Homo sapiens: one gene and its partners. The protein of the gene in region 1 purifies or fractionates together with the protein of each later gene. This does not show direct contact. Each region holds a gene or a part of one and is shown on either strand. Other genes may lie near its edges.

Region 1 (7,480 bases):
TGAGAGGTGGAGGCTGCAGTGAGCCGAGATTGCGCCACTGCACTCCAGCCTGGGTGACAGAGCGAGACTCCGTCTCAAAAAAAAAGGCTGGGCGCGGTGGTTCACGCCTGTAATCCCAGCACTTTGGGAGGCTGAGGCAGGTGGATCACAAGGTCAGGAGATCAAGACCATCCTGGCTAACACCGTGAAACCCCATCTCTACCAAAAATACAAAAAATTAGCTGGGTGTGGTGGCGGGCACCTGTAGTCCCAGCTACTCAGGAAGCTGAGGCAGGAGAATGGTGTGAACCCAGGAGGCGGAGGTTGCAGTGAGCCGAGACTGCGCCACTGCACTCCAGCCTAGGTGTCAGAGTGAGACTCCGTCTCAAAAAAAAAAAAAAAAAAGAATTGTGGGTGGGTGCGGTGGCTCACGCCTGTAATCCCAGCACTTTGGGAGGCCGAGGCAGGCGGATCACGAGGTCAGGAGATCGAGACCATCCTGGCTAACACGGTGAAACCCCATGTCTACTAAAAATACAAAAAATTAGCCAGGTGTGGTGGCAGGCGCTTGTAGTCCCAGCCACTCGGGAGGCTGAGGCAGGAGAATGGCATGAACCCGGGAGGTGAAGCTTGCAGTGAGCCGAGATCACGCCATTGCACTCCAGCTGGGCGATAGAGTGTGACTCTGTCTCCAAAAAAAAAAAAAAAAAAGGAGGGGACATTGAAGCAACAACAACAAAAAAAAGAATTGTGCAGTCATCACCACAATTGCAGACATTTCCCTTGTAAAAGTTTCCTTCCATCTGTTTGCAGAGTCCCTACCCCAACCCCCACCCTCAGCCCATCAGCGATCTGCTTTCTTTTTTCTTTGAGATGGAGTGTTGCTCTGTCGCCCAGGTTGCAATGCAGTGGCATGATCTCGGCTCAGTGCAACGTCCGCCTCCTGGGTTCAAGCAATTCTCCTGTTTCAGCCTCCTGAGTAGCTTGGATTACAGGTGCGCACCACCACGCCCGGCTAATTTTTAAATTTTTGGTACAGATGAGGTTTCACCATATTGGCCAGTCTGGTCTCGAGCTCCTGACCTCAGGTGATCTGCCTGCCTTGGCCTCCCAAAGTGCTAGGATTACAGGTGTGAGCCACTATGCCCAGCCTTTTCTGTTTTTTTTTGAGACAGTCTCGCTCTGTTGCCCTGGAGTGCAGTGGTGCAATCTTGGCTTACTGCAACCTCTGCCTCCTGGTTTCAAGTGATTCTCCTGCCTCAGCCTCCCAAGTAGCTGGGATTATAGGCACTGGCCACTATGCCAGGCTAATTTTTGTATTTTTAGTAGACACGGGGTTTCACTATGTTGGGAAGGCTGGTTTCGAACTCCCGACCTCAGGTGATCTGCCCACCTCAGCCTCCAAAGTGCTGGGATTACAGGGGTGAGCCACTGCACCTGGCCTGCTTTCTGTTCGTATGTGTGTGTGTGTGTGTGTGTGTGTGTGTGTGTGTGTGTGTGAAAAGTGTCTATTTGAGTCTTTTGTCCAATTTTCAAAAACTGGATTGTTTATCTTACGGAGTTGTAACAAAGAGTTCTTTATGTGTTCTGGATAGGATTCTCCTGTCAGCCATGTGATTTGCAAATATTTTCTCCCAGTCTGGCTTGTCTTTTAATTTTCTTAATGGTGTTTCTTTTGAAGAGCAAAAGTTTTGAATTTTGACGAAGTCTCATTTACTGCTTTTTAAGTGGATACTGCTTTTGGAGTTATGTTTAAGAAATCTTGGGCCCAGGCATGGTGGCTCACGCCTGTAATCCCAGCACTTTGGGAGGCCAAGGTGGGCGGATCATGAGGTAAAGAGATTGAGACCATCCTGGCCAACATGGTGAAACCCCATCTCTACTAAAAATACAAAAATTAGCTGGGCGTGGTGGCACACACCTGTAGTCCCAGCTGCTCAGGAGGCTGAGGCAGGAGAATTGTTTGAACCCGGGAGGCGGGGGTTGCAGTGAGCCTAGATCGCGCCACTGCACTCCAGCCTGGTGAAAGAGCGAGACACCGTCTCAAAAAAAAAAAAAAAATCATACAGGCGGCTGGGTGTGGTGGTTCATGCCTGTCATCTCAGCATTTTGGGAGGCTGAGGTGGGCGGATCACCTGAGGTCAGGAGTTCGAGACCAGCCTGGCCAACAAGGTGAAACCTCGTCTCTACTAAAAATACAAAAATGAGCTGGACGCAATGGCGCACGCCCGTAATCCCAGCTACTCAGGAGGCTGAGTCAGGAGAATTGCTTGAACCTGGGAGGTGGAGTTGGGTTGCAGTGAGCCAAGATCATGCCACTGCACTGCAGCCTGGGCAAACAGTGAGACACCATCTCAAAAAAAAAAAAAAAAAAAAAGCGCAGGTGCAGTGGCTCGCGCCTGTAATCCTAGCACTTTGGGAGACTGAGATGGGTGGATTGCCTGAGCTCAGGAGTTTGAGACCAGCCTGGGCAACATGGTGAAACTCCATGTCTCCTAAAATACAAAAAATTAGTTGGGTGTGGCAGCATGTGCCTGTAGTCCCAGCTAATTGGGAGGCCGAGGCAGAAGAATCGCTGGAACCCGGAGCGCGGCAGAGGTTGCAGTGAGCCGAGATTATGCCACTGCACTCCAGCCTGAGCGACAGAGTGAGACGCCGTCTCAAAAAAAAAAAAACAAATAGAAAGAAAAGAAATCTTTGCCTAGGTCAAGGTCACAAAGATTTTCTCCTATTTTTTTCTAGCATTTTGTTGTTGTTGTTGTTGTTGGTTTTTTTTGAGATGGAGTCTCCCTCTGTCACCCAGGCTGGAGTGTAGTGGCATGATCTTAGCTCACTGCAGCCTCTGCCCGGGTTCCAGCGATTCTTCTACCTCAGCCTACTGAGTAGCTGAGATTACAGGTGCGAGCCACCACGCCCGGCTAATTTTTGGATTTTTTAGTAGAGACGGGGTTTTCACCATATTGGCCAGGCTGATCTCAAACTGACCTTGTGATCTGCCTGCCTTGGCCTCCCAGATTGCTGGGATTACAGGCGTGAGCCGCTGTGCCCGGCCTTTTCTAGAAGTTTTATAGTTTTAGCTCTTACATTTAGGTCTTTGATCCATTTAGAGTTAATTCTTTTTTTTTTTTTTTTTTTTAATTTTGAGATAGGGTCTTACTCTGTCATTCAGGCTAGAGTATAGCGGCATGATGTCACTCTAGCCTTGACTTCCTGGCTCAGGTGATTCTCCCACCTCAGCCTCCCAAGTAGCTGGGTTTTCCCAGCTATGTATGTGTACCACTATGCCCAGCAAAGTTTTTGTATTTTTTTTGTAGAGACAGGGTTTCACCGTGTTGTCCAGGCTGGCCTCAAAGTCCTGGACTCAAGCAATCTGCCCACCTTGGCCTTCCAGAGTGCTGGGATTACAGGTGTGAGCCGCTGTAGCTGACCAAATTAATTTGTTTCACTTATGGCTTGAGATAAAGATCTAAACCCCCCTTTTTTGTGGATGGAATTCAATTATTTTAGTATCATTTGTTGTAGAGACTATCATCTTCCCATCAAATTGCCTTTGCACCTTTGTCAAAAATTAGTTGACCTAAGCCAGGCATTGTGGCTGGATAACAAAGCAAGACCATGTCTCTTAAAAATCAAAACAACAGCGACAAGAACCCCACCAGTTAACCATGAATGTGAGGGTTTATTTTGGGACTCTCCATTCTGTTCCATTGATTTATGTGTGTCCCAGAAGTTCTCAACTGGGGCATTTTTGCCCTCTCAAGGGACATTTGGCCATGTCTGGAGACATTTGTGATTGTCACAGCTGGGGGCATCTGTTGGGTAGAGGCCACAGGACAGTCCCCCACAATTAAGAATAAATCGGCCCAGAATATCCATAGTGCTTAGACTGAGAAATCCTGGTCTGTTCTTAGACCAGCAGCACACTGGCTTGTTTACAGTAGTTTGATAGTAAGTTGTGAAATCAGGTAGCATAAGTTCTCCAACTTTGTTCTCTTTCAAAATTGTTTTGGTTATGCTAAGTTCTTTGCATTTCCATATACATTTTATAATTAGCCTGTCAATTATTTCTACAAAAGCAGCCTGCAATTTTGATAAGTATTACATTGGATATATAAATCTATGTGGTGAGAATTGCTGTCTTTACAGTGCTGACTCTGGGAATCCATGAACATGGTATATCTCTACATTAATTTTGATATTTAGCTTCTCAGTTGTTTTTTTTTTTCAGATAACTTTACCTATTTAAGGCAAGTGATATTTGCCAATCTATTACTGATATATTGCCTTCCCAATCTAGTAGTGATAAAAAATTTCCTTTTTTTTTTTTTTTTTTTTTTTTGAGATGGAGTCTTGCTCTTGTCACCCAGGCTGGAGGGCAATGGCGCAATCTTGACTCACTCCAACCTCTGCCTCGCAGGTTCAAGTGATTCTCTCCTGCCTCAGCCTCCTGTGTTGCTGGGACTACAGGTGCATGCCACCACGCCCAGCTAATTTTTGTATTTTTAGTAGAGATGGGTTTCACCATGTTGGCAGGGATGGTCTTGATCTATTGACCTTTTGACCCGCCTACCTCAGCCTCCGGAAGAGCTGGTATTACAGGCATGAGCCACTGCGCCCGGCTATTCTTAATAACAGTTTTGTTGAGATCTAATTCACAGCATACGAGTCACACTGAGAACATCTAGTCCAGTGGTTTTTTTTGTTTGTTTGTTTGTTTTTGAGACGGAGTCTTGCTCTGTCGCCCAGGCTGGAGTGCAGTGGCGCAATCTCTGCTCACTGCAAGCTCTGCCTCCCGGGTTCACGCCATTCTCCTGTCTCAGCCTCCTGAGTAGCTGGGACTACAGGCACCCGCCACTACGTCTGGCTAATTTTTTTGTATTTTTAGTGGAGATGTGGTTTCACCGTGTTAGCCAGGATGGTCTCGATCTCCTGACCTCTTGATCCGCCCGTCTCGGCCTCCCAAAATGCGGGGATTACAGGCATGAGCCACCGTGCCGGGACCAGTGGTTTTTGGTATACTTGTGTTGTGCAGCCATCACCACTGTCTAATTCCAGAACATCTTCATCACACCAAAAAGAAACCCAGTGGCCATGAAACAGTCACTCACGGCCAGGCGTGGTGGCTCACATTTGTAATCCCAGCACTTTGGGAGGCCAGGGCAGGCAGATTACTTGAGCTCAGAAGTTTGAGACCACCCTGGGCAACACGGCAAAACCTTGTCTCTACAAAAAATAAAAAAATTATCTGGGTGTGGTGGCGTCCACCTTTAGTCCTAGCTACCTGGTGGGCTGAGGTGGGAGGATTGCTTGAGCTCAGGAGGTCGAGGCTGCAGTGAGCTATGATTGCCCCACTGTACTCCAGCCTGGGCAGCAGAGTGAGACTCTGTCTCTAAAGAATAAATTAATAAAATTTGGCCGGGTGCAGTGGCTCACACCTGTAATCCTAGTACTTTGGGAGGCTGAGGCGGGTGGACCATTTGAGGTTAGGAGTTTGAGAGCAGCCTGGCCAGCATGGTAAAACCCCACCTCTATTAAAAATCCAAAAAATTAGCTGGACGTGGTGGTGGGTGCCCATAATCCCAGCTACTCAGGAGGCTGAGGCAGGAGAACTGCTTTAAACCAGGAAGCAGAGCTTGCAGTGAGCTGAGATCACGCCACTGCATTCCAGCCTGGGCAACAGTGCCCAGGCTTTATTTATTGAAAAATTAATAAAAATTGGCTGGGTGCCGTGGCTCACACCTGTAATCTCAGCACTTTGGGAGGCCAAGGCGGGTGGATCACCTGAGGTCGGAGGTTTGAGACCAGACTGACCAAGATGGAGAAGCCCCATCTCTACTAAAAATACAAAATGAGCTGGGCGTGGTGGTACGTGCCTGTAATCCCAGCTACTCGGGAGGCTGAGGCAGGAGAATCACTTGAACCCAGGAGGCAGAGGTTGCAGTGAGCCGAGGTCGTGCCATTGCACTCCAGCCTGGGCAACTAGAGCAAAACTCTGTCTCAAAAAATATATCTATCAATAAAAAAAATTATTATTATTATTATTGAGACGGAGTCTCACTCTTTCTCCCAGGCCGGACTGCAGTGGTGCTATCTCGGCTCACTGCAAGCTCTGCCTCCCGGGTTCACGCCATTCTCCTGCCTCAGCCTCCCGAGTAGCTGGGACTGCAGGCGCCCGCCACCGCGCCCGGCCAATTTTTTGTATTATTAGTAGAGACGGGGTTTCACCGTGTTAGCCAGGATGGTCTCCATCTCCTGACCTCGTGATAAAAATTTTTTTAAAAAGGGCTTGGGTTTCATAGTAGGATGCATTTGAAGGTAAAAGCAATCCTAACAGGCTGTGAAAATTGCAGCTGCCATTGGGGGCAACCCTGTAGGCGTGTGGTGGGAGGAGCACTAGCTTCAGAGTCCTGGGCTGATGGTAGCCCCTCCTGTGCCAGTGACTTCCTCAGTGGCCTTGGCCAGTGTTTTGCTCAATGGGGCCCCAGGTTTCCCTGGCTGAGCCCTGGGGGTCACCTCTGATTCCCTGGGCCCCTTTCAGGTCTGGCTGCCAGTCCATGTGAGCCAGCAGGGAGGGACAGGCCCTGGCCCTCGCCCAGCCCAGCCCAGCTTTTGTTTTTCATGATGCCCAGAAGTTTTCTGGAAAATGTTCTGTATTTCCTGGATGACCCTGAAGTGGTGACCACTCCTGCCTGCCCACCTCCCAGACCCGGTGCCGCCTGGGTCCGACATTGCCTGGCTTTCCCCGCGCCCTTCCGCTGTGTCCCGTGAGGCTCTCTAGCTTTGCGCTTTGGGGTCATCTTGTCCAGTGGACGACGGCGTGGTGTCGTCTGCACCATCCCTGCAGTGCCTGACTTGTGCTCGCTGAACAGCTGTAGAATTACCCGGAGCTCAGCCCTTTGCTGCGCCCTAGGAGGGGCTGGAAGAGGAGCGGCCTGTGTCCCTCTGCTTGTTTGTGGAGAAGCTGACCTGGAGCAGTGTTGGAGGGGTCCCTGGATCCTGAGCGAGTGTTCGGTCATTTGCCTTTCCATAGACCTGGGCGAAGAAGCGAGAGGTTTGAGGAGTGACTGAAATCAAGACCTGAGGCCGTTAGAAGAAACACCGTTTGCTCAGTCCTTTCATCCAGCTCGCGGGGGACTTGGGTCCTCTCACGTGGTCTTGGGTATGTGGCCTCAGCGGGGCCTGGCATCCCTGAGGTGGGCAGAAGGTTGCATTGGCTCCCCAGGGCTCAGCACTGGCGCCACTGCTCACATAACTGAAGCTTTCTTCTAACAGGGCTCTCGCCCCGCGGAACAGATGCTCTCTGTGATGTCTCTGAGAGCCCAGACTCCCAGGGAGCCTTCTGGGGAATCGAAAGAAAGAAAAGATTGCTTCAGTGCTTTGGGGAAAAAGTGTGTGTGTACATATACTGCACATAGACATTAAAAATCAGAGGCTGGGGGCTGGCTGCAGGGGCTCACGCCTGTAATCCCAGCACTTTGGGAGGCTGAGGCAGGCGGATCAC
Region 2 (7,723 bases), on another chromosome or scaffold:
GCAAACTCTTTCCTTTTATTTACCAATTTGAAAATGAGTCTGTTCCCAAGTATCCTATAAAGATGATTACTGAGTTTTTTTAAAGTATCATTTTGAACCCATTAAACATATCTGATGCAGTTAGCGTCCTTGTGGATGTTCAAACTGTCCATCTTTTGCAAGCAGGAGCCTTTTCATGTTGCTTGAGTTCTGACATGGCCCTAGTAATCCTTATCCTTAATCTTTGATATGACCATGTTCCCACATTATATGAACGTTTCCTGACCTAGTTCTGGAATCAACCACCTCTCCAAAGAGCCTGGAGTTCCTTTTAGAGAGAAATGGTACGTAGACACAATCAACATTATCTTCCTCCTACGCCCAACATCTCAGTTCTCAGTAACACCAACATAATTACTCGTTTCCTTTCCCCCCAATACACACACAACCATCTCAAAATAAAAGCAACAGTCTAGTAATAACATGTTTATTCAAAATACTAACACTGTTACATTCTTTTCATTCTCAGGGCATATTCTACTAGAGATGTACTGTCCTATGTTTTGAAGTCACCTGGAAGAGTTCTTAGTGTGGTTATATGACTACATCAAGAGTTTTTTACTTTTGATGATTAGGGACTGCTTTTTAAAACTTACTTTACTCCATAATCTTAAAATACTCATACAGTTCCACAGTCACATTTACACTAACAAGGCATATTTGAAGTCCAGCTTTCATCCTTGATCCTGCTACTCTAGGCTCTCCTTTCTCCTAAAGATAAGCATTTTCATTATGTATCATGTTTATCGTATAGGCATGAACACACGCGCGGCCCCTTCCAGGCAGTCTTCAGTGATGTCACGTGTTCCCATGGCACCTGTATTGTACTCTTATCAGTCATTATATGGACTTTAACTTCCCCAGATATTATTTGGGCTCCTCCATAAGACTGTGAGCATCTGACCACTGGAGTGTTGCTTCCCATTATATCCCTGTTATCAAGCACAAGGTCAGGCACAGAGTAAGACTCAAAACATGTTTTGGAATGTATGACTGGTATGAACTACAAACCAGTAAGCTGATGTTTTCATTTTGAGTCTATAAATCTAATTTTGTGGTGGTTTTGTGTATGGCTCAAGGCTCAAATTGTAAAATTTAATATTATGTGACCAAAGAAAGTTATACCCAGAACCTCAATTTCCTCACCTTCAAAATGGGGCAGTTTCTCACTCATTGGTCTGCTGTCACGATTTTAATGAGCTCATGCACAAACAGCCCTTTATATAAGGTAAGTGCTGGATAAATGTTGGCTACTATAATAAAATAAGCCTCTAAGATACTTGGTCAGCACAAGTACTACCCAAGAGTATGCACTGTAAGTAAACTGACAAAATTGTGTATCTAAAACTGGCCAGATGAAAGAGAAACTTTTAAGGGGCCCTTCTGCGTGCCCGACACTGTGCTAGGCACTCACACTATCCCGACCCGAGAAACCGATCTGCGACCCAGAGGAACTTACCAAGCCTCCAGCATCTTGTGCAGCCCTACTCATGGGACCATCTGGATACCCACCCTTGTCTTTACAGGGAGCAGAACACACCTCTTATGTGTCAGAAAACAAAGTCCAGGAAGTATATTTTTACCTGAGGCAATATCTGAAAATTGTATGCTACAGCCTCCAAAGTGAGTCTTCCTCTCAGTACCTCTCTTCTAGGCACATGGAGCCCTTTCTTCCAAGTATTATGTTTAACCACTTAATGAATGAAGTCCTGAAACTGCTTACCCATGCTCCCTATAATCTCTGAGTAATCTTCCTTTTCCACAACCTCAGGCATAATCTCATCTTCTGTTTCTATTACAATTTCAAATTCTGGAAAAAGGAAGTTGTGGTCTGGAATTATATGGTCCAGATGATCTGAAACAAAAAGGACAGCACTATTAGTAATCATTTAGTTTTGAAGACAGTCTAATAATTTGCTGTCTCTAAAGTACTATATTCCCTATAGTTCTGGCATTTTAGATAAAGGGTCATAAATTAAATGCCTATATGGTGACATTATTCAGTGATTCAGACTTCACAGCCTTTTTTTTTTTTTTACAAAGGTGTTCCAGGCATGAAAAATTTTAAAGTACTATACCTTTCCTAATTTTACCTTTAAAGTTGTCCTGGAAATATCTGGGTTGACAAAGGCGATGAAACTGAACTGAGACTTAAAAAAAAGATTACCCACCTGGTTGTGCACAAGCCTGCTTATGTCCCAATCTCCAGTCTAGGGTCTGATGCTCCTTGCTGCAGTAATATGCTTTGTGGCATCTGGAGCACGTTTTGGGGCCTAAACAGCCACAAACCCTGCAGAGATGAGCACCAGACTTAAGCTGGAGACACACTGATTCTCCTGTTTCTGGGGGAGGATTCTCAGAAGGTGGCTCATATGAGTAAAAATCGTTTTTCCTGGGTAGTTGATTCCTAAAAACTAAAAAAGAATACAGAGAAAAGTTTTATCTTCAAACAAAACAGCAATTCACATATTTTATCCTCTGCACGTAAAACTGAAAATAACAACAACAAAAAAGAAATGAAAGTTTTTGCTTTCAGGAATAAGCTTTTAAAATCCAGAAACTAGATTTCGTCCGGTACACGCAACTGAGTTGCCTCCTAGAGGTGGTTTGAGTTAATCAAATTAATAAGACTGATCGTTAAGAACGACTGCCAAAAATACGAAAAAGCTACTGGGATCCATCTTTCCAAGACAATTTCTATTATCTGAATTAACACCATACCTGGTACCCACTGATTAAAAGCTGGGGGTTACCAATGCGCGTGGGCACAGTTAGAAGCTTATGTAGCAAAAATGAGCACATCCTGGAAGGGCCCGGGAGAAGGTGCTCCTGGGGCAGCGCGGAGAGGGAGCTCTGAGGCTGGGGCGGCAGCGGTGCTTGCCGCCGTCCCCCTGGTCGCTCCCGGAATTAACGCCGCGCACGCGTCGGAGGCATGGCCCCGTCCCGACCCCGTTTGGCGGCTCACCTCGCAGGCCGGCACAGCACGGCTGCTCGCGGCAGCAGAAGAGGAAGATGCAGCGGTGGAAGGCGTCCGGGCGGCCAGGCAGCGGCGCATACACCTGCAGCAGGAAGGAGAGCGGGCGGCCGCACAGCTCGCAGGCCAGGGCCTGGGGCCCCGGCAGCCCGGCCGCGCCCAGCCATGCCGGCCGCCCGCCCACCTTGCTGGGGAACTGCTCGCTGCGCAGTCGCCACGCCGGCGCCGACTCGGCGAAGCCCAGCTCCACAGGCCTGGCCCCGGCGGCAGCCATGCGGGGCGCGGGCTGGCGTGGGGCGCAGCCCACAGCTGGGTCGGAAGGCGGAAATCGGGCGCCGGGCCGGAAGGCAAGAGGCGGGCACCTTTCCGGAGGACAGGAGGCGGAAACGCGTCTGACGGGAGCGGTTGCAGGACCAATGCGAGGGAACGGGGCAGAGGAAACCTCTCGGCATCAGCCCCGCCCCTGGCGCCTCTGCCTCCGAGCCGCTTTCCTGGTGCCTCCGGGTGCTCTGGGATGGTTCTGGTCTTTGGGAGAGTGGCAGCTGGTGACGGCGCTCCGCTCACCTCTGCACATGTCTTGCTGTGGGCCTGCGGGTGGCCGCCAGGGAGGCAGAGCCCTCCCGCAAACCTTCCCTGCTGGTGTCCACCTCAGGGTGTGGGAAACCTGTGCGCTGGCCGAGTGCTAACCAAGAGTAGGCAGTGAAAGACAAATGAAGGTTGAACAGGTAAAGTGAGGACCCTACAGCGGAAACCAAGAATCCTGTGTGCCTGAGAGTAATGAAGAAGCCTCTGCAGAAGAGTCTTTTCTGTCAGTCTTAAGGTCTCTGTTTTAATGTTAGTGCTGGCTTGCTGTACCTGAATTCCAAGGGAGGAGTGTATAATGAGGCATGGCCAACCCCCACTTCCCATCATTGCCTGAACTAGTTTTTCAGGTTAACTTCAGAATGCCCTTGGGCAAGCAGAGGGTCCATCAGTCGGTTGGAGGGTTTAGAATTTTACTGTTGGTTTGCAAAGGTCTGAAAGAAACATGTACCACCTGTTCTCTTTAAGGAGTTCTACTTAGGAGGTTTCATTTACATAACAAGACCGTGGTTGTCAGCCAGGTCTCCACCCGCATAACCTGTTATGCCACAATCCAAACCCCCATTCTGTAACCTCAAGATGGTATATAAGTTTCTGAACCCCATTTGGGGCTTCAGCAAAATCACTCTGGTTCTCCCCCATGTGCATGTTAATAAATTTGTATGCCCTTTCTCCAATTAATGTGCCTTTTGTCAGTTGACTTTTCAGTGAACCTTCAGAGGACAAAAAGGAAGCTTTCCCTTGGCTACTACAGTGGCTTTAATGGAAGTAAAGTCATCAACAACATTTATTTTTGACAAAATCACAGTTTAGTTGGCAGTATATTTGTTTGTTTTTGTTTTATTTGAGATGGAGTCTCGCTCTGTCGCCCAGGCTGGAGAGCAATGGTGCGATCTCGGCTCACTGCAACCTCCGCCTCCCGAGTTCAAGCATTCTCCTGCCTCAGCCTCCCGAGCAGCTGGGTAGCAGTATATTTGTAATGGTACATAAAATAATGTCTGTTTTTAAATAAACATTTACATTGTAAACCAAAAGTTAACTCTCCATCAATTTTTTTTTTTCTTTTTTGAGATGGCATCTTGCTCTGTCACCCAGGCTGGAGGAGTGCAGTGGCATGATCTCGGCTCACTGCAACCTTCGCCTCCCAGGCAAGCGATCCTCTTGCCTCAGCCTCCTGAGCAGCTGGAATTATAGGTGTGTGCCAATACAACCAGCTAATTTTCGTATCTTTGGTAGAGACAGAGTTTCACCATGTTGGCCAGGCTTGTCTCGAATTCCTGACCTCAGTTGATCTGTCCGTCTCAGCTTCCCAAAGTGCTGGGATTACAGGCATGAGCCACCACATCCGGCATCCATCAATTTAGAAAGTTTATTTCACCAAGATTAAGGTTGCACCCGTGACACAGCCTCAGAAGGCCCTGATGACCATGTGCCCTTGGTGGTCAGGGTACAGCTTGCTTTTATACATGTTAGGGAGACATGAGACATCAATCAGTATGTGTAAGATGTACTTTAGTCAGGTAAAGCGGGACTTGAGGTGAGGGCTTCCAGGTCATGAGTAGATAAGAGGCAAAAGATCGCATTTTTTTGAGTCCTTGATCAGCCTTCCACTGAATACACAATTTAGTCTGGCTCAGTGAATTATCATTTTTACGTAAACAATAGGGGAGGGGAAGCAATTAGATATGCATTTGTCTCAGGCGCACCTTAAAGGGATAACTTTGAGTTCTGTCTGTCCTTTATCCACAAGGAATTTCCTTGTGGGCAAATTTTAAGGGAGGTACGTAGCCTCTTATCTTGGCAGCTATCTTATTTAGGAATAGAATGGGAGGCAGGTTTGCCTGACATAGTTTCCAGCTTGACTTTACCCTTTGGTTTAGTGATTTTGTGGTCCTGAGTTTTATTTTCCTTTCACAGAAATTATACCGTAAAAGTAATTGAAGAAAATCACTTCTTTCCCCTTCCCTCAACTAGGCCTTGACCATTTTAAATAAAATCAGGATTTGCTGAAGGTCAACAAATTTAACCAAGTTCAGTTAAAACTTAACTCTGAATCTGTATGTCCCTGGGGTCTTTTCCAGTGAGAGATGTCTAAGCATCATTCCAAGCTTTTCTATACTAACTGGCCTATTTGTATGTTTCTTATTTTAGGATTCCTTTTGTTCATGTGTATTTTTATTAGGCAATCACCCATTTCCTGTAGGTTTCCAGGTTAATATATTTTTCTTATTGGAATTTTAATTTATCCTCTCTAGTTTTCTACATATTTTTTTTTTCTTTGAGACGAGGTCTCATATGTTGCCCCGGTTGGCCTCAAACTCCTGGGCTTAAGCAATCCTCCCACCTTGGCCTCCCAAAGTGCTGGGATTATAGGTGTGAATTACTGTACCCAGCCTAGAATCCTTAGTCCTATATACTTTTGCTGTTTTTTTCATTGCCAACTTGAAATAATAAAAAGGGTCAGAATCCTATAAACCAAAAATAAAATAAGGCCCCCCAACCCTCTGAATGGACTTCCTCCTCTGACACAGATCTTTTACAATTTAACCTGTATGAACCCCAAAAATTGGAGACAGGTCTCAGTTAATTTAGAAAATTTATCTTGCGAAGGTCAAGGACACACGATTATGACAGCCTCAGGAGGTCCTGACGACATGTACCTAAGATAGTCAGAGCACAGGGTGGTTTTATACATTTTAGGGAGATATAAGACATCAATCAACATATGTAAAATGAATATTGGTCAGGAAAGGTGGGACAACTCAAAGAAAAAATGGGACAACTCGAAGTGGGGAGGGGCTTCCAGGTCACAGGTAGGTGAGAGACAAATGGTTGCACTCTTTTGAGTTTCTGATTCACCTTTCTAAAAGAGGCAGTCAGACATGCATTTATCTCAGTGAGCAGAGGGATGACTGAATGGAATGGGAAGCAGGTTTGCCCTAAGCAGTTCCCAGCTTGACTTTTCCCATTAGCTTAGTGATTATGGGATTCCAAGGTAATTTCCTTTCACATTTCCCCCCTTTTCTTTTTTAAAATATTTTGGAGAAAGCATTTTTGAAGAAAATAAGTTTCTGTTCCCAGGTTTTATCTGCTCTCTCATGGCTAGGATGGTTTTTTCCTAGAAGGGTAGGTCCTGAGTTATTAGGAAAGCTCATTTTTAGAAGGTTGTGAAGTCTAATATCCTATCAAGAGAAAATTTGGGGAGGAAGGGAGAACAATAAGAACAATCTTGGAAAATTGATCTAGGCCACATTACTCTGAAGTCCATACATCAGTAAGCAGGTATGAAAGTGGCTTATGTATGTAAATAGGTTCCCATTATTTTCTTCTGAAGTTTAAGTTGTCTACTTCAGTTCACAGGGCTTCACGAAAGTTAGTTTTAAGTGACTTAGTTTAGTGACAGCTTAGTTTTAAGTGACTCCAAATTAGGAAAAATGGGGAAAAAAAGAAGGAAAAAAATTGAAAACATTATTTTGAAGACTTGTAGCCCACAAAAATTAGAATTTGGTCCAAACTGTAGAAAATGATAAAAATTGAAAAACATTAGGCAAGACTAGAATCTAACAACTGGTGGACTATAGTTTTCCAGTCTCTAGTTTCCCATTTATACTAAAGACAAATCATGATAGGTTTGCCTTATTATATTTGGCCGAATTATTTGTATACAGTGCAGCAAGAATAATTATTTTTTAACATTGGCTTTTAAATTGGCTTTGATGGAACTTTGTTCCATAGAGGGTATTTCAGATAAGACTTTTTAAAAGCTGAGCCCAGCCATGGATTTGTGCCATCAAATACCTGTGAGTTTGGTGATCCTCTCCTCTTGAGGTTCCAAGATAAACTTGAGGCTCCTGGGCCTGTCAGAAAGTGACATTCTTTACTTACCACAGGTCAGGAACCCTGTACAGGAGCTGTGTAGACAAAGTTATGAGGACGGTTTTTCCAAGGGGGTTTAATTGGCTCCGTAAGTCAAGTAAAAGCATTGGTAAACAACCAGTTTCCCCAATTGTGTCCTGTTACAAATGAAAACAGATTATTAGTGCACTTATGCAAATAACTGTATTGTCATAAGTTAAGAATACTTACAGTTTCCAAATTCTGGAGAAATCGGGTAGAGAGAACCAAATG
Region 3 (7,480 bases), on another chromosome or scaffold:
ATACGGTCACCCTTGGTATGAGAAACAAAGTTGAAGTTGACGAGAATCATGGAAAAATAAGCAGAGGAAAAGAAGACAGGAATGGGAGACTCTTTTAAGTAGTTGAACAAGCCCTAATCTCCTTGTTTTCTTGAAGCTTATTCAGTTATAACTGAGGGCTTCTCTACTGTAAATTACAATAGTTACAACATGAACCTTGCATTCCAGAATTTCAAATGTGAATTTTAAAAATTGCTGCAATCTATAGCATGGAATTTAAGGTATAAAGCAGAAGAGTATAATAACAGGGGCATTAGAACATGACTGATAAGTTTTATGAACTTAATGGCAAGATTCTTAAAATTTTGGGGCTTTGGGCTTTGATTCCACCTGTAAAAATAGGGTGTGTTAAATCAGATGATCCCAAAATTCTTTCCAGCTCTACAATCACGAATTCATATGAGGTATAAATGTGTGTCAGCAATCTGAGATGGAAAAAAAAAGCAAATTTAAATTTTTTTCTCTTTTCTCTCCTATCTTGAAAGTATGGTTTTGTCTGACAAGAGGCCTATAATGATACCTGTTTTAATCAGAATTCATTTGAACTCTTAGGATAGTTGTTTTGGCTTTTGTACTGTTAGTCAATTTTTATTAATATTTTTTAAGAAATTATACGTTGATTTTAGATCTTAGTCATTACGAAACTGTTGGCACATACCTATTTCAAGTACCTTAATGGAGAGAAATGCTGATATGTATTGATAGTGGGATTGTGGTAGGAAATTTTGTTGAAGTTTATTGTTAGAGACTTTTCTCAAAAATTAAGAAAATTGAACCTATGAGCTGAACTGCTTTTGAACTATTTGAATTACAATTTCTACTACTTTTCTCTGCTTTTTTAGGAAATGTGAGTTCTTCTCCCAGATCTTCTGATTTAGTCAAATTAGCCCAAGAGTGCTGTTACCATAATAACAGGGGCATTGCAGCTCATGGAGTTAGAGTCCTAACTAATATAACTGTTTCTTGTCAAGAAAAGGGTAAGTTTGATCAGGACTGATATTACGTATAAACTTTGGTTTAGACCTTGGACAGAATTCTGTTTGATTTTTTTTTAATCCCTTATTTTTAGCCTGTGTGCCTTGATCTACAAATTGACTCCTTTCAAAGTGTTCTTAGAGCATGTGTTCTTAAGACTACTTTATCCTTGTGAAAAATAATAAAGAGATGAAGACCTTGGGAGTGGAATTGAAAGGTTTTATGGAGCATTGCCCATTTCCTTCCACTGCTTACCTTTGCATATATGGTGCATATATGGTGGATAAAGATTGCTTAGGACTCTACCCCTTTTGTATAAGGTGGTATGTTCACTTATACAAAAACCTAGAAAATTTACTTAGGTTCTCCAGGGACTTAAATAACAAATAGTTTCACCTAGAGGCAAGTGAATTCACAGACCAATGTGAATTAAATTTTCACAGAATTTACTCTAGGTATATGTGGCATTAAACTGACTTGCATAATCAAGGAGGACATGCAAGGAAAATAATGCACATATTTTGTTGTCTACCTAACATCTTTTGACTTGTGTTCAAGAACAAGAAATGCATTTTGGATATTCCATCTGTTTCAGTGCTGATTTTGATCTTCATTAAGGATTACAAGCTCAGTGGTTCCTCTTATCCCCCCTAGCCTTCAGCACTGCTTGTTCCTAGTACCTGTTTTTTTCTAGCAACCTGACCTTCACTAGCCTTTACTCTGTTTGCCAAGCTCCTGCACTCAGGAAACATTTCTTAAAGTTGAAAGTTGATTCTGATTTGGATAATTAAGCCTGTTTTATATTGGCATCACAAAGAGTATTTTCTTCCATGTAACACAGAAAACTGCTGTATGTTCTCAACACTGAAATATATTAACCTAAAGGTAACTAATATATTCAGAACTTTCTAAAACCTTCAGAGAAATTTTAACCCTATGGTAGTGAAAAGATGTTCTAGTGCTGCTATTTCATGAGACATCTAAGAGGTTCATTCTTTATGGTCAGACTTAAAACAGTAATAAGGTTATGTGGAGACCTTATTATTTCCTAAAAGTGGTTCAGCTTTCATTAGAAGCTGAAAACTGTTATATCTTAGGTAAAAATGGACCTGCATAATTTATTTCTGATTAGGGAGATTAACACATACTGCATAGTTTGCTGTTCTTAGTATTTTCCTTAGCTAAGCTGGTGACACTATTTCAGTTTTGCTTTATTTATAGCTTTGTGGCTTTAGCTCTTGATTTAATGTGTATATTTTTATAAATACTTCAATAAAGTGGTAGAAATAAAGTCTGAAGATAGACTTTACATTCTAGAAGTAATGCCACATGTACTTTTTCAAGGAAGGTTAGGTTCATCCATTTAATAATTCCCTATATCTTAAACTCCTTAATGTTTTTTCTAAGAGAGTGTGTATGCATGTATATGTGTGTGTGTTTGTACACACATCACTTGACCATCATAAAGTTTACTGTTTTTCTTCTAGATCTTTTGGCACTGGAACAAGATGCTGTCTTTGGCCTGGAATCCCTACTGGTACTTTGTAGTCAAGATGATAGTCCAGGTGCTCAGGCCACTTTAAAGGTGAAAACTTTTATTTATTAAGTTGTAATAGATATATATGATGGTCTTAGGCAATAGAAAGCAAAGTTAAGCAGACATAGCTCCTGTACTCTTAGAAGTTTTAATCTAAGTGATTAAATCTAACTGATAAAACTACACTGATTTAATCTAACTGATAAAACCACAAAAAAACTGATGACATGACTGCAGCCGACTCATAAATGTTCATTAATTTAACATAAGCGTTCATTAATTTCCCAGTGGTATAAGCCCTAGTTTATAAGCCAAGGGAAGAATATTTTAAGGAATTTTCACCTTCACTTAGTTACAGAAATCATCTTAGAGATATGCAAGATTTTTAAAATGTGAAATGAGGCCAGGACAGTGGCTCTCATGCCTATAATCCCAGCATTTTGGGGCGGTCAAGGTGGAAGGATTGCATGAGCCTAGGAGTTCAAGACCAGCCTGGGCAGCATACTGAGACCCCATCTCTAGAAAAATTTTTTAAAATTTAGCTGGACATATTGGGGCACACCTATAGTCCTAGCTACTCATGAGGCTGAGGTGAGAGGATTGCTTGAGGCCGAGAGGTTGAGGCTGCAGGGAGCCATTATTGCACCACTGTTCTCTACCCTATGTGAAAGAATGAGACCCTGTCTCAAAAAAAATAAATAAATAAAATGTGAAATGAAACTACTCTTTTTGGAGTGAAACGTGAAATATAATTTGTGATGGTGCAAAATTAATGAGGAGAAGCATAGTTAATAGAAGTAAGAAACTGTTAGATAAACATTGGCGTTAGCTTGTCTAAGGTGTGGTTTCAAGGAAGTCATGGCTCATTTTAGCAGGTTAAGGAAAGTTGTGATATGGTCATAGTGATGAACAATAAAGATAGTAACATCATTAAGTGACAGCTAATAAGAAGTAGAGAAGGGAAGTAGACAACATGTGTTTGGCAACACATTCTGAGGGGGATCCTCAGAATCCCCTTGGAACCACAGTACATTTAAGACTTTTTTTAAAAGCAAATCTTTTTTCCAACAATTGTGGGTGTCAGTAAAATGCTGGATTCAGCACAGTGGGACATACATAGATGGCCAAGAAAGGTTCCTGTAATAGAGGAGCTTCCCATCTAGAATAGGCTACTGATGTTTATATAGGGGACTATAATACCAAGCGGAACACAATACATTCTCTGATATTTCACAAAAAAAGTGCAGTTCTAATGAGAGGTCAGAGTCGGGAGTGATTAACTTTAACCAAGGGTATTAGGGAAGACTTTAAATAAATGTCATATGAGTTGAGTTGTGAAAGATGGAATCGAATTACAGTAATGAGGAAAGATTGTTTGAGCCCAATGACTGCTGTTATAAAAGACTTGAAAGTAAGAATGTACCTGTTGTGGTGGAAGAATGGTGACTAGCCCACTGTGGCTGGGTGAAATAATTTGAGATTTGGAAAAGTAGTTCAGTCATAGAGGATATCAAATAACATGGTATTATGGCTTTGATTCTATAGGTAATGAGGAGATAATATAATTTTAAAGTAATGGTAACCTTTGTCGTAATTATTATTGTTATTTGAATGTCTATTATGTGCCAATCTTTGTTGAAGACTTATATATACATTTGTTTCAGTCCTTCAATAACCCTATAATGAAATGTGTTCTCCTCTTATACACATCAGAAACTTAAGGCCGAGAGAGAGAAGTACCTTGTTCAAAGCCACCTAGCTAATAAGGGGCAAGCTGAGCTTCAGCCCTTGCATTTATCAGACTCTAAAGTTATGTGTGTGCCTGACACCCCACTGATGGCTACATGGCTGCATTGTGAAGGATGGATTGAAGGGCCCATCTTTTCAAGAAATTGGAATTAGGAAGAGATTTATGATGTGGTAGAGAGAATGGAAAAGTGCCAACAGTGGATATTGGAGGCTTGACAAAAGAATCTGTTAGCTATGTAAAAGTGGGAATATTTCTAGGTTTCTAGTTTTTTGGCTGGATATTAGTGATGCCTTTAAGAAGGCCTTGGTAAGAGAAATTCTGTAGCCAAATTGGTTTTTAGATTTCAGTTGAGAAATAAGAGAAAATTGGGAACCTCTTTCCCACTTCAGTGTACTTAGAGTCATCTAAGCCGTCTTTTTAAAACTGTGAAACCTCAGTAGCCTCAACACACACACACACGTATGTTAATTCAGGAATCTATATTTTTATTTTCATTCTGGGAGATGCTGGCATAGTTTACAAGCCACACTTCAGAAGCAGTTCCTGAAAAGTAATGATAATACAGTGATGGTGACATTTGGCCTATATTTGCCTCTTCAGCATTATTCCTTATGATTTCCATCTTTCTTAAAAGTATTTTAATAGTCTTAGATTGAAATGAGTGGTTGACGTGCAGTCCTAATTTGTTATTTTAAACGTAGTGCACTTCACAAACCCTAATGTGAGATTCAGTACCTCATATTTCTTATGAAGTAAAATGTTATGCCTACAAGAAACCTCACCCTTGAGTTTCCCCAGTAACCTGTACAAAGCTCTTTTCCTTAAAGCTTCATCTGTATCTTCAAAATGTAACTAGTTCATTTTCTTTTTGGCGTGCAGATTGCTCTAAACTGTATGGTGAAGTTGGCCAAGGGCAGGCCCCATCTTAGCCAGTCAGTAGTTGAGACCTTGTTGACTCAATTGCACAGTGCTCAAGACGCTGCCCGGATTTTGATGTGCCATTGCCTGGCAGCCATTGCCATGCAACTGCCGGTGCTGGGTGATGGGATGCTTGGTGACCTCATGGAGCTGTACAAGGTGATTGGACGATCAGCCACAGACAAGCAACAAGAACTTCTGGTAAAAAGCCCATTTTGAATCTCCTTTGAATGACTAGGATCTGGTCTAGTGGGAATTACTTTTAAGTCAACATTACTATTTGACTTTACTTAAAAAACAGAACAAACAATAGGTTAAATTCATTACCTAAGACCAAAGAGTGTGCTGATGTCAAAATAGAATTGGCTTTATGAGCTTTTTACTTTTTTCACTTTTGATTTAGAAAGCCGTGTTTTGTTCACCTCTAAAACTGCTTTCTTCCGAAACCCTGTCAAATCAGCCTAGTATAGCCAAAGCCTTCAATCTCATGTTTTTTTTTATTGCAAAGGACAGAATGAAAATGAAATTTTTATCTTTCTTATACAGAGTAAATAATGAACTAAACCCTGTTTTGTACTTTAGAAAATAGAAGTTAAAAATCTAATGATAATAATGACCATAAATTAGCCCAAATTTATGTTTTCCATTCCAGGACCTCTTTAGCTGTTTAGGATCCAGTTTAGGCTTCTGTAGACCCTTGAGGTTGGGAAAGGTACATGCTTAGAAAGAAACAGAAGCTGTGGAAGCTATAAAATGTTTAGTTGAAAAGTTCTGCAGGACTGAGAGTAGGCTACATTCTAAATAATTGTAAATTAAATGAAAGTTGTAAGGTTGCCATTCCATATTGTTCTGTTCATCTTAATTTAGAATGTGGGAAAAAATATAATGAAATAATTTATTCAAGCCTGTTTTATGTTTAATCCTCCAGAGGGAATTGTGTAAAAGATTGACCCCATCCCATCATTTGCTGCCAGAAAAGGTTACCTTGATGACCAAATGTATGGATCTTTATATGAATCAGCTTTGAAATATTAAGAGGCAGTTAGCTAAGTTTATTTTTTATTGAAGTGGCATTTTGAACTAACGGTCCTGATATCTTTTTTGTGAGTACTACCTTAAGATTGTCTTAAATTATGAAACATAATATTCAAAAAATCTGAGGAATAATACAGTGAAAACTCTTGCATTCATTATCTAGCTTAAGAAAAAGGTATTAACAGTTTAGTTGAAGCCCCCTGTTTACCTTGCTGATAGCATCTCCTCCCTTCTCTCAGGTAACCACTATCCTGAATTTGGTATTTATCATTCTCATGCCTGTTATTCTTTTACTACCAAAGTGTATATCCCTAAGTAATATGCAGTATTTTGCATATTTTTAATTTTATGTAAACTTTATCATACTACTTGTAATCTTTTGCATTTTGCATATTTTTGCGTATTTTGCTTGTCATCTATGTTGGTAAGTCTGTCGCTAGTTTATCCATTTTATTTACGTATCTCATTGTTTGATTATGTTATATAATTTATTCATATTATGGGTATTGCTTCTACTTCTTTGCTGTTATAAAGAGTGCCCTGAGTGAATGGAATAAATTAATGACTTCAAAATAAAAAATTAAATAAATGTCATTGGAAAACAAATTTTGTTCTTTTGCAGTGGGCTCTAATTAGTTTTCCTCCCTTTGGGGTAGGTTATCAATGACACTGAATAAAATTAAATGATTTTCTTGGTTTTCTTCTTGCCCAATGTTAGGTGAGTTTGGCTACTGTGATTTTTGTTGCAAGTCAGAAGGCATTGTCTGTGGAAAGTAAGGCAGTAATTAAGCAGCAGCTTGAAAGTGTCTCCAATGGATGGACTGTATACCGTATTGCCAGACAGGCTTCCAGAATGGTATGTGTTACCCTTCTGAGTGAACTGGGTTGCTGGAAATGTCAGATCATGTATCTTCAATTGTATGATTATTAGTTGTAGTCAAAACTAAAAATAAAGATGGAAGTACCTTTTAGTCATGGGTTCTGAAGATGAGGAAGGAAAGGACCTGATTTTTAACTTTTATCATAAAAGAATGGTATCTATGTTGTTGGCATTAGTAATGAGGAAGTTAAAATCTGGACCCTTTCTGGCTGTAGGTTGTTAGTGCCACTTTCATTTTGCTCTGTATTGTTATAACCAAGGCCACCTACCACCCGCTGTTTCTATCTTCCTTTCTCAGTATACCACATCTTTGTTCCTCTCCCCAGTCTTGTCATTCTTAAGTAGA
Region 4 (7,175 bases), on another chromosome or scaffold:
TTTTTAAGACTGGATAGGAATTTATATAACGAATATAGTCAAAACCCTTCTTATCCCTAATAAGAAAACTTTCTAAATGAAAAGCCTACCCAAAGCAAATATTTCCTTTCACTTATTCATTCATTCACTCAATTGTATCTAATACAGCGATTCTCAACTCAATCCTGGCTGCACATTAGAGTTCCCTGAGCAGCTTTTAAAAATGCAGATGCCTGGGCCGTGCTTCCAGATGATTCTAACTTGATCTTGGCTAGGGCCCAGGCCCTGTTTTTTTTTTTTTTTTAGACAGAGTCTTGCTCTGTGGCCCAGGCTGGAGGGCAGTGGCACGATCTTGGCTCATGGCAACCTCTGGCTCCCAAGTTCAAGCAAGTCTATGCCTCAGCCTCCCAAGTAGCTGGGATTACAGGCACCCACCACCACGCCCGGCTAATGTTCGTATCTTTAGTAGGGATGGGGTTTCACCATCTTGGCCAGGCTGGTCTTGAACTCCTGATCTCATGATCCACCCGCCTCGGCCTCACAAAGTGCTGGGATTACAGGCGTGAGATGCCGCGCCCGGCTGGCACTGTTATTTTTTAAGCTGCTGCATGATTGTAACATGCTGCCAGGTTGAAAACTACTAAGCTAATATTCCCAAACATGTCTGATGTGCCAGTCACCGTGGTGGTGCTAAGGATTCAGTGGTAGAGACACTGCCACAGAAGGTGATAGCTTTCTGCCATCAGGATTCACAGGCCAAACATACCGTCTCCTCTGTCTAGAATACTTCCCTTGTTCATTACATAATTAATTCCTCATGCTTTGCATCTTAGATTAAATATCACTTATTCAAAGACATTGTTGCCCTTCTATCTAAATTAGCTCCCATATTGTTTGCCCTCAAGGAATCCTTTCTCTTTCGCTTCATGACACTTATCTCGGTTGTAATTACAGGTATTCCTCCGCCATTGGAACTCTCACGATCAAAACTCAGGACCAGATAGATTTTAGTAATGAGGAAGAAGAGGCAGACTTACCTGAAGAGTGTAAAGTTTAAGCTTCAGGGCTCTTGTGGTAGGCTGGATAACAGATCCTCAAAGATGTCCACATCCTAATCCTAATCCCCAGAATCTATGAATATGTTGCTTTGCATGGTAAAAAGAACTTTGCAAATGTGATTAAGTGAAAGATCTTGAGATAGGGAGATTATTCTGGATTATCCAAGTGTGCCCAATATAATCACAAGGGTCCTTATAAGGAGACAGGAGAGTCACAGAGGAAATGCAAGGACAGAAGCAGAAGTCAGAGGGGTGTAAAAATGCTCTACACTGCTAGCTTTGAGGATGGAAAAAGGAGCCATGAGCCAGGGACGTAGGTGGCCTCTAGGAGCTGGAGAAGGCATGGCAACCAACTCCCCTGAGAATCTCCAGAAGGAAAGCACTTCCCGCACTTTGATTTTAGCTCAGCGAAACTGATTTTGGACTTCTCACCTCTTGAACTGTAAAATAATCCTTGTTTTAAAGTATTAAATTTAGGGTAATTTGTTACAATGACAATAGGAAACCAATATATAGCCCTCCCTTGTTCAGGCCCCTTCCAAGGCCCTGGGAAGCAGTGCTGATATGGTTATATGTTTTTGTAAAGCTTGCAAAATTAAAATACTTTACCTACAATTGATTAAGATTTCTCTCTTTCCACTGAGACTTCCGGAGTATTCTTCTACTGGCTAACATTGGAGTGACTACAGGCATTTTTGGGATCCAGCTAAACAGAAATGCAGCTGGGGGTACTTTGGTTTGCATTTAATGGGAGACGTTCATGTGGTTCGTGGTCACTTCCATGCACTATTAACTTATTGCTGGAGAGTAGGAATGGCTTCTGCAAATGCTCCTGTATTAGTCCATTCTCACACTGCTATGAAGAAACACCTAAGACTGAGTAATTTATAAGAAAAGACGTGTGATTGACTCACAGTTGAATCACAATTCTGCATGGCTGGGGCAGCCTTAGGAAACTTACAATCATGGCAGAAGGCACTTCTTGACAGGGTGGTAGGAGACAGAATGAGTGCTGAGCAAAAGGAGAAGCCCCTTATAAAACCATCAGATCTCATGAGAACTCACGCGCTCTCATGAGAACAGCATAGGGGAAACTGCCCCCATGATTCAATTATCTTCACCTGGTCCTGCCCTTGACATATGGGTATTATTATAATTCAAGATGAGATTTTGGGCAGGGACACAGCCAAACCATATCAGCTCCTAACAGCCACTGTGTCAAAGTGCCCAGGTGTGGTAACATGAAGGAGCCATAGAATATGTGCAGCATGCAGTTCACTTTAATCTCATCAGAGAAAAAAGCTGTCTTCACCATCCCTACATTTTTTCATATCAATCAAAAGCAGTAATTCATGAAGAGGAAGAGATAAATTTGAATAGAAGTAATGGAGAGGCTCTCAGATTGTTGGATGAGTCAACTAATGAAGAGTAAATCTTATTAATACATTGGGAAAAGCTTTAATTTCCTTGCTAATTTGTCATAGTTTATAGGCATCAGTGAAGATATTATAAACTCAATACACAACCAGAAGGAGGACATCAATAACAAACTGATTAATAAATGTCATCAATTTAACAAGTAATATTGCTGATTAGTCATAGCACAATAAAATGTGAAATGCCCTAAGATCTTATAACTTTTTTTTTTTTGAGATGGAGTCTTGTTCTGTCACCCAGGCTGGAGTGCAGTGGTGAGATCTCGGCTCATTGTGACCTCCGCCTTTTGGGGTTCAAGGATTCTTGTGCCTCAGCCTCCTGAGTAGCTGGGATTACAGGTGTGCAACACCGTGCCTGGCTAATTTTTGTATTTTTGTAGAGCCAAGGTTTCACCATGTTGGTCCGGCTGGTCTCGAACTCCTGACCTCAAGTGATCTGTCCACCCCAGCATCCCAAAGTGCTGGGATTACAGGTGTGAGCCACCGTGCATGGCCAGATCTTATAATTCTTACATGAAAGAAATGTAATAGTGATTTCCTCTAATATGACAATAGTCCTAAACCTTTACATGACACTTTCAAGAACAAATTATTAGATGGTGTAGGTGGTCCTTGAATGAATGAACCATGAGATACCCTAGAGCAGGGGTGTCCAATCTTTTGGCTTCCCTGGGCCACATTGGAAGAAGAATTGTCTTGGGCCACACATAAAATACACTAACACCAGCAATTGTTGATGAGCTAAAAAAAAATTGCAAAAAAAAAAAAACTCATAATGTTTTAAGAGAGTTTATTAATTTGTGTTGGGCTGCATTCTAAACTGTCTTGGCTGCATGCAGCCTGCAGGTGTGGGCCAGGGGTTGGACAAGTTTGCCATAGAGCGTGGCTTGGTTGGATGAGGGTGCTAGAATTCAGAGGACGGTCACTGTGCAGTGAGAGTTGTCTTGGCTGTAGGACTGGAGTTGGTAAAATGAAAAAAAGAAAAAACTAGTTTTGCATGAAAGAATGTTTCCAGCATATGAATGTCCCACCACACTTTTAGTTAGTCTTGGCTGTACATGTTGCAATAAGTCAAGGAACCCTACAAAGTAGGATGGAAGGATTCAAACTGCGAATCGCTTGAACCCGGAAGGCGGAGTTGGAGTTTGCAGTGAGCCGAGGTTGAGCAACTGCACTCCAGCCTGGGCGACAGAGTGAGACTCCGTCTAAAAAAAAAAAAAAAAAAAAAGATTCAAACTGCTTTTGAAAAAAGTAAAAATGCAGGGTTATATTTTAGAAATAGTGCAGCCAATCATTAGTGGCTATTCCTAATATGTCAATTTCGGGTCTATAGAAGACCTACCTAGAGGCCAGCAACTATTAATTGATGCTTATAGCACCTAATGAAACTGCCCTTGCCTTTGAAGCCCCCATTTAGCTAAGGGGATGGGATGTGAATTTAGAATAGGACGTGAAAAGTGCAAAATGCTCCCGGACTCAGATCGGATAAACCTCTTCTAGGCTGTCTTTCTCTTCTGAAGCCACAGTTTTGATGCTTTCCCTAATTCAGAGCAGGCTTTCCCGGAGTCTCTGACTCAGAGCAGCCCGAGCCACCGTGAGGACCGCCCACCTGCAGGGGGCGCGCCGGGGGCTGCAGCGCGAGACCGCTCTGGCCCAGCGGGGACTCCGACTACCCCTGTCTGGCCCCTCCCCTCCGCCCGTCACCGCCTCCTTGAAGCTGCCGCTGTCGCTGCTGCTCGTTCGAGTCGCAGGTACTTGGCCCGGGGCCTGTGGGCAGCGCCTGGGCTAGAGCCACTTGATATCTCCTGCACCGTCCCTGTAGCACTGGAGGTCCAGTAGGCCTGGCCGGGGCCCTGAGGGGCGAGGGTGCCCGGGCTTCCCACACCTTCCGCGGCGACTGGAGGGAGCCGGGCCGAGGAAGCGACCGCGGGTCCGTGATGGCTTCTTCGCGGTCTGTGTGTTCACGAGGGCCGGGCAGAGGCCTGCGAGGGTTCTCGTTTGCGCTTGCGGGTTAGGGCTGTGGTCCGGGGAACCCCTGGGCAGCGCGGGCAGCCCTGGCTCGCGGTTAATCGGGGGGTGGAGCGCGGAAGCCACGCCGCAGGTCCAGCTGCTCGGCCGGGGCGAGACGGTGCTTTCGCGGCGTGTGCTTGCAGGAGCGCACAGTTCAGGCGCCGGGACAAGCTGTTGGGGTGTGAGTGAGCTCTCCAGAATGGCACATGGCTCCGGGGTGCCCGGGTTAAAAGGAAGGATTTGCACACCTTCCACTTAGGGCTCGGGTAATCGCAAACTTCCTCCCTTAATTGGCTTGCAGTGCTAAAAAGCAGATCGTTCTCTCTGAGGTTTTCCCAACAGTACCTCAAGAAAATAACATCTGTTTTTTGTAACGTTCCACGGTATTCGGAATTGGCTACAGAACATAATAAGGTAAAAATATGCCATTGAATAGTAGCGCTTCTCAATCTTTAAAAAATGACGGTGGTACCTAGGAGCCTCTTAAAGAGCTGTAATATGAGTGGTGTGGGGATTATTTTTATGTTCTAGTAATAGCTATTTTCAGTGCTTATTTTATGTCAGACACGGTGCCATTGCTTTAAATACCTGGTACCTTTAATCCTTGAAGCAACCCTATCAGGTACCATTTCCATTATACAGATAAGGAAACTGAGGCACCGAGAGTCTGACTTCTCCAAGGTCAGAAAGCTAGCAAAGGCTGAGCGAGATTTGGTCTCATCTCCCTTACTTCAGTATCCCTGCGTCTGTTATCTAGCCAAACATGTAGCGCTGTCTAAGAGTTTTATCAATTAGATTTGTAGCCTGAACTGATTTCTCTCAGGCTTAGTTTTCATGGTTATATGCAGGAGTCCTACATGAACTCCTTTTTAGTTTAAAAGGAGTTTAGTAAGAAAACTGTTAGCTCATTAAGGACTATAGTGATAATAAAGTTAAACTTGGACTGGGGTTCTCACTGTGCCAGTACAATTTGATTTGAAATAGAGATGAATTTGTTTGGTTGTTAACACACTTTATTACATTTCTTCATTATTTATGTTTCCATACCATTTTTTAGTGAGTTCACTTTGCCTTTGCATTATTATGGTAGCAGTACCAGAGGGAAATCAAAGATTTTTTGATGATAGTAAGTTAATATTTTACAGAATACAGGAAAGGCACTGGAGAGAGGATGTGAAGTGATAAGGAATTTTTGGCATGTTATATAAATTGTGTTACTATGGAAAACAAAGGATTCTCACAGTTCTTTATCAAAAGGGAAATTGTATTTCCCATTGTGGAAATAAGTTGGGCTTTATAGTCCCAAACTTCTTAGCCTTACCTATTATAGATTTAAGAATTTGCATATTCGGCATTCATATAGCAAGCGTATATTGAGTGCCTTCTATGGCCAGGCTCTGTTCTAAGCACTGGGGGATGTGAGAGTGAACAAAATGAAGTCCTTGTCTTCCAGGAGCTAACATGTCACTGGAGGAAGGTGGGGTTGGGGACGATAAGCGGGATTTGTGAAAGTTAACGTATCTGGAGTCAGATGGTAACAGTTACTAGGAATAAAAATAAAGTAGCAAAGGGGGATAGGAAGCACCAAGGAAGGAACAGGTGCAGTTTTAAAATAAGGACTGGTGCCATGGAAAAGACTCAAGCAAAACTGAAGGCGTTGGGGACCGCCATGCAGCTGTCTAGGGAAAGAGCATACCAAGCAAGGGCAAAAGCCCAGAACCCTTCAGTCTTGTTAGAGGGACAGCAAGAGAGGAACAGCAAGGAGGCCAGTAGATTTGAGCACCTGGAGGGAAGGAGGGTGAGACAAGGTCAGAGAGCTAATGGGCCCAGGTAAGGACTTTTGCTTTTACTCTGAGTGAGAAGGGAGGTGTTTGGAGGGTTTTGAGCAGAGGAATGAGGGGATCTGGCTTAAGGTTTTTAAAGGATCACTCTGGCTGCTGTGTTCAGTGTTGACTGTAAGGGCAAGGATGGAAGCAGGGAGACCTGTTAGGTTGATGCAGTAATTGAAGCCAGAGAGAATGGTGGCTTAGACCAGGTGGGTAGTAAGAGAGGCAGTAAGAAGCCGTCGTATTCTGAGTATTGCTGATAGGATTTGCTTATGGTTTGGATGTGCTTATGAGAGAAAGGGTGAAGCACGACCCTGTGGCCTTTGGCCTGAGCTATTGGAAGGCTTTAGTTAAACAGTGTACTGAGATGGAGAAGACTGAGTGTGAAGGTAGGTGGAGCCAGTTTTAGTCAGGTTTGAGATGCCTGTTCAAGTGGGGTTATAGAGACGGGAGTTGAAGAGAAAGGTCCAACTGGAAATAGAAATTTGGGAAGTCACTAATGCAAGCTTGTGCAACCCAAATTTGTAAACTTACTTAAAACATTATGAGATTGATTGTATTTTTTTTTAAGCTCATCAGCTATCGTTATATGTGTGCCCCAAGACAGTTATTCCACTGTGGCCCAGGAAAGCCAAAAGATTGGCTACCCCTGCACAGAAGGGTAGTATTTAAAGCCATGAGCCTATGAGATCTAGTGTAAGGAAATGAGAATTGAGCTCTAGGGCTTTCCACATTCAGATATTGGAGAGATGAATAATTACAAAGGAGAGGCTTTTGAAGGTAGGAGGAAAAAGAAGCGAGTATGGAGTACTGAAGGCCAAGTAAAGAGTTTTTCAGGGAGAAAGTGACCAACTGTGTCTCCTCCT

What was found.
Region 2: the proteins of MGRN1 (region 1) and PDCD2 purify together in Homo sapiens (co-immunoprecipitation; 3 studies listed by BioGRID and IntAct, with this or other methods). This does not show direct contact.
Region 3: the proteins of MGRN1 (region 1) and INTS7 purify together in Homo sapiens (affinity purification with mass spectrometry; 2 studies listed by BioGRID and IntAct, with this or other methods). This does not show direct contact.
Region 4: the proteins of MGRN1 (region 1) and ANKRD46 purify together in Homo sapiens (co-immunoprecipitation; 4 studies listed by BioGRID and IntAct, with this or other methods). This does not show direct contact.

Annotation. Positions count from the first base shown.
Region 1 is NC_000016.10:4,627,714-4,635,193, forward strand, and holds part of MGRN1 (E3 ubiquitin-protein ligase MGRN1), read left to right. Parts: intron 1-7,480. UniProt on the Homo sapiens protein: E3 ubiquitin-protein ligase. Mediates monoubiquitination at multiple sites of TSG101 in the presence of UBE2D1, but not of UBE2G1, nor UBE2H. Plays a role in the regulation of endosome-to-lysosome trafficking.
Region 2 is NC_000006.12:170,581,295-170,589,017, forward strand, and holds the start of PDCD2 (programmed cell death protein 2), read right to left. Parts: upstream 3,344-7,723; 5' UTR 3,288-3,343; coding exon 3,005-3,287; intron 2,454-3,004; coding exon 2,211-2,453; intron 1,895-2,210; coding exon 1,763-1,894; coding exon of another isoform or gene 1,734-1,762; exon of another isoform or gene 972-1,733; coding exon of another isoform or gene 964-971; exon of another isoform or gene 1-963.
Region 3 is NC_000001.11:211,976,212-211,983,691, reverse strand, and holds part of INTS7 (integrator complex subunit 7), read left to right. Parts: intron 1-881; coding exon 882-1,016; intron 1,017-2,501; coding exon 2,502-2,599; intron 2,600-5,180; coding exon 5,181-5,420; intron 5,421-6,147; coding exon of another isoform or gene 6,148-6,246; exon of another isoform or gene 6,247-6,860; intron 6,861-6,972; coding exon 6,973-7,110; intron 7,111-7,480. UniProt on the Homo sapiens protein: Component of the integrator complex, a multiprotein complex that terminates RNA polymerase II (Pol II) transcription in the promoter-proximal region of genes.
Region 4 is NC_000008.11:100,556,760-100,563,934, reverse strand, and holds the start of ANKRD46 (ankyrin repeat domain-containing protein 46), read left to right. Parts: upstream 1-4,175; 5' UTR 4,176-4,224; exon of another isoform or gene 4,225-4,897; intron 4,898-7,175.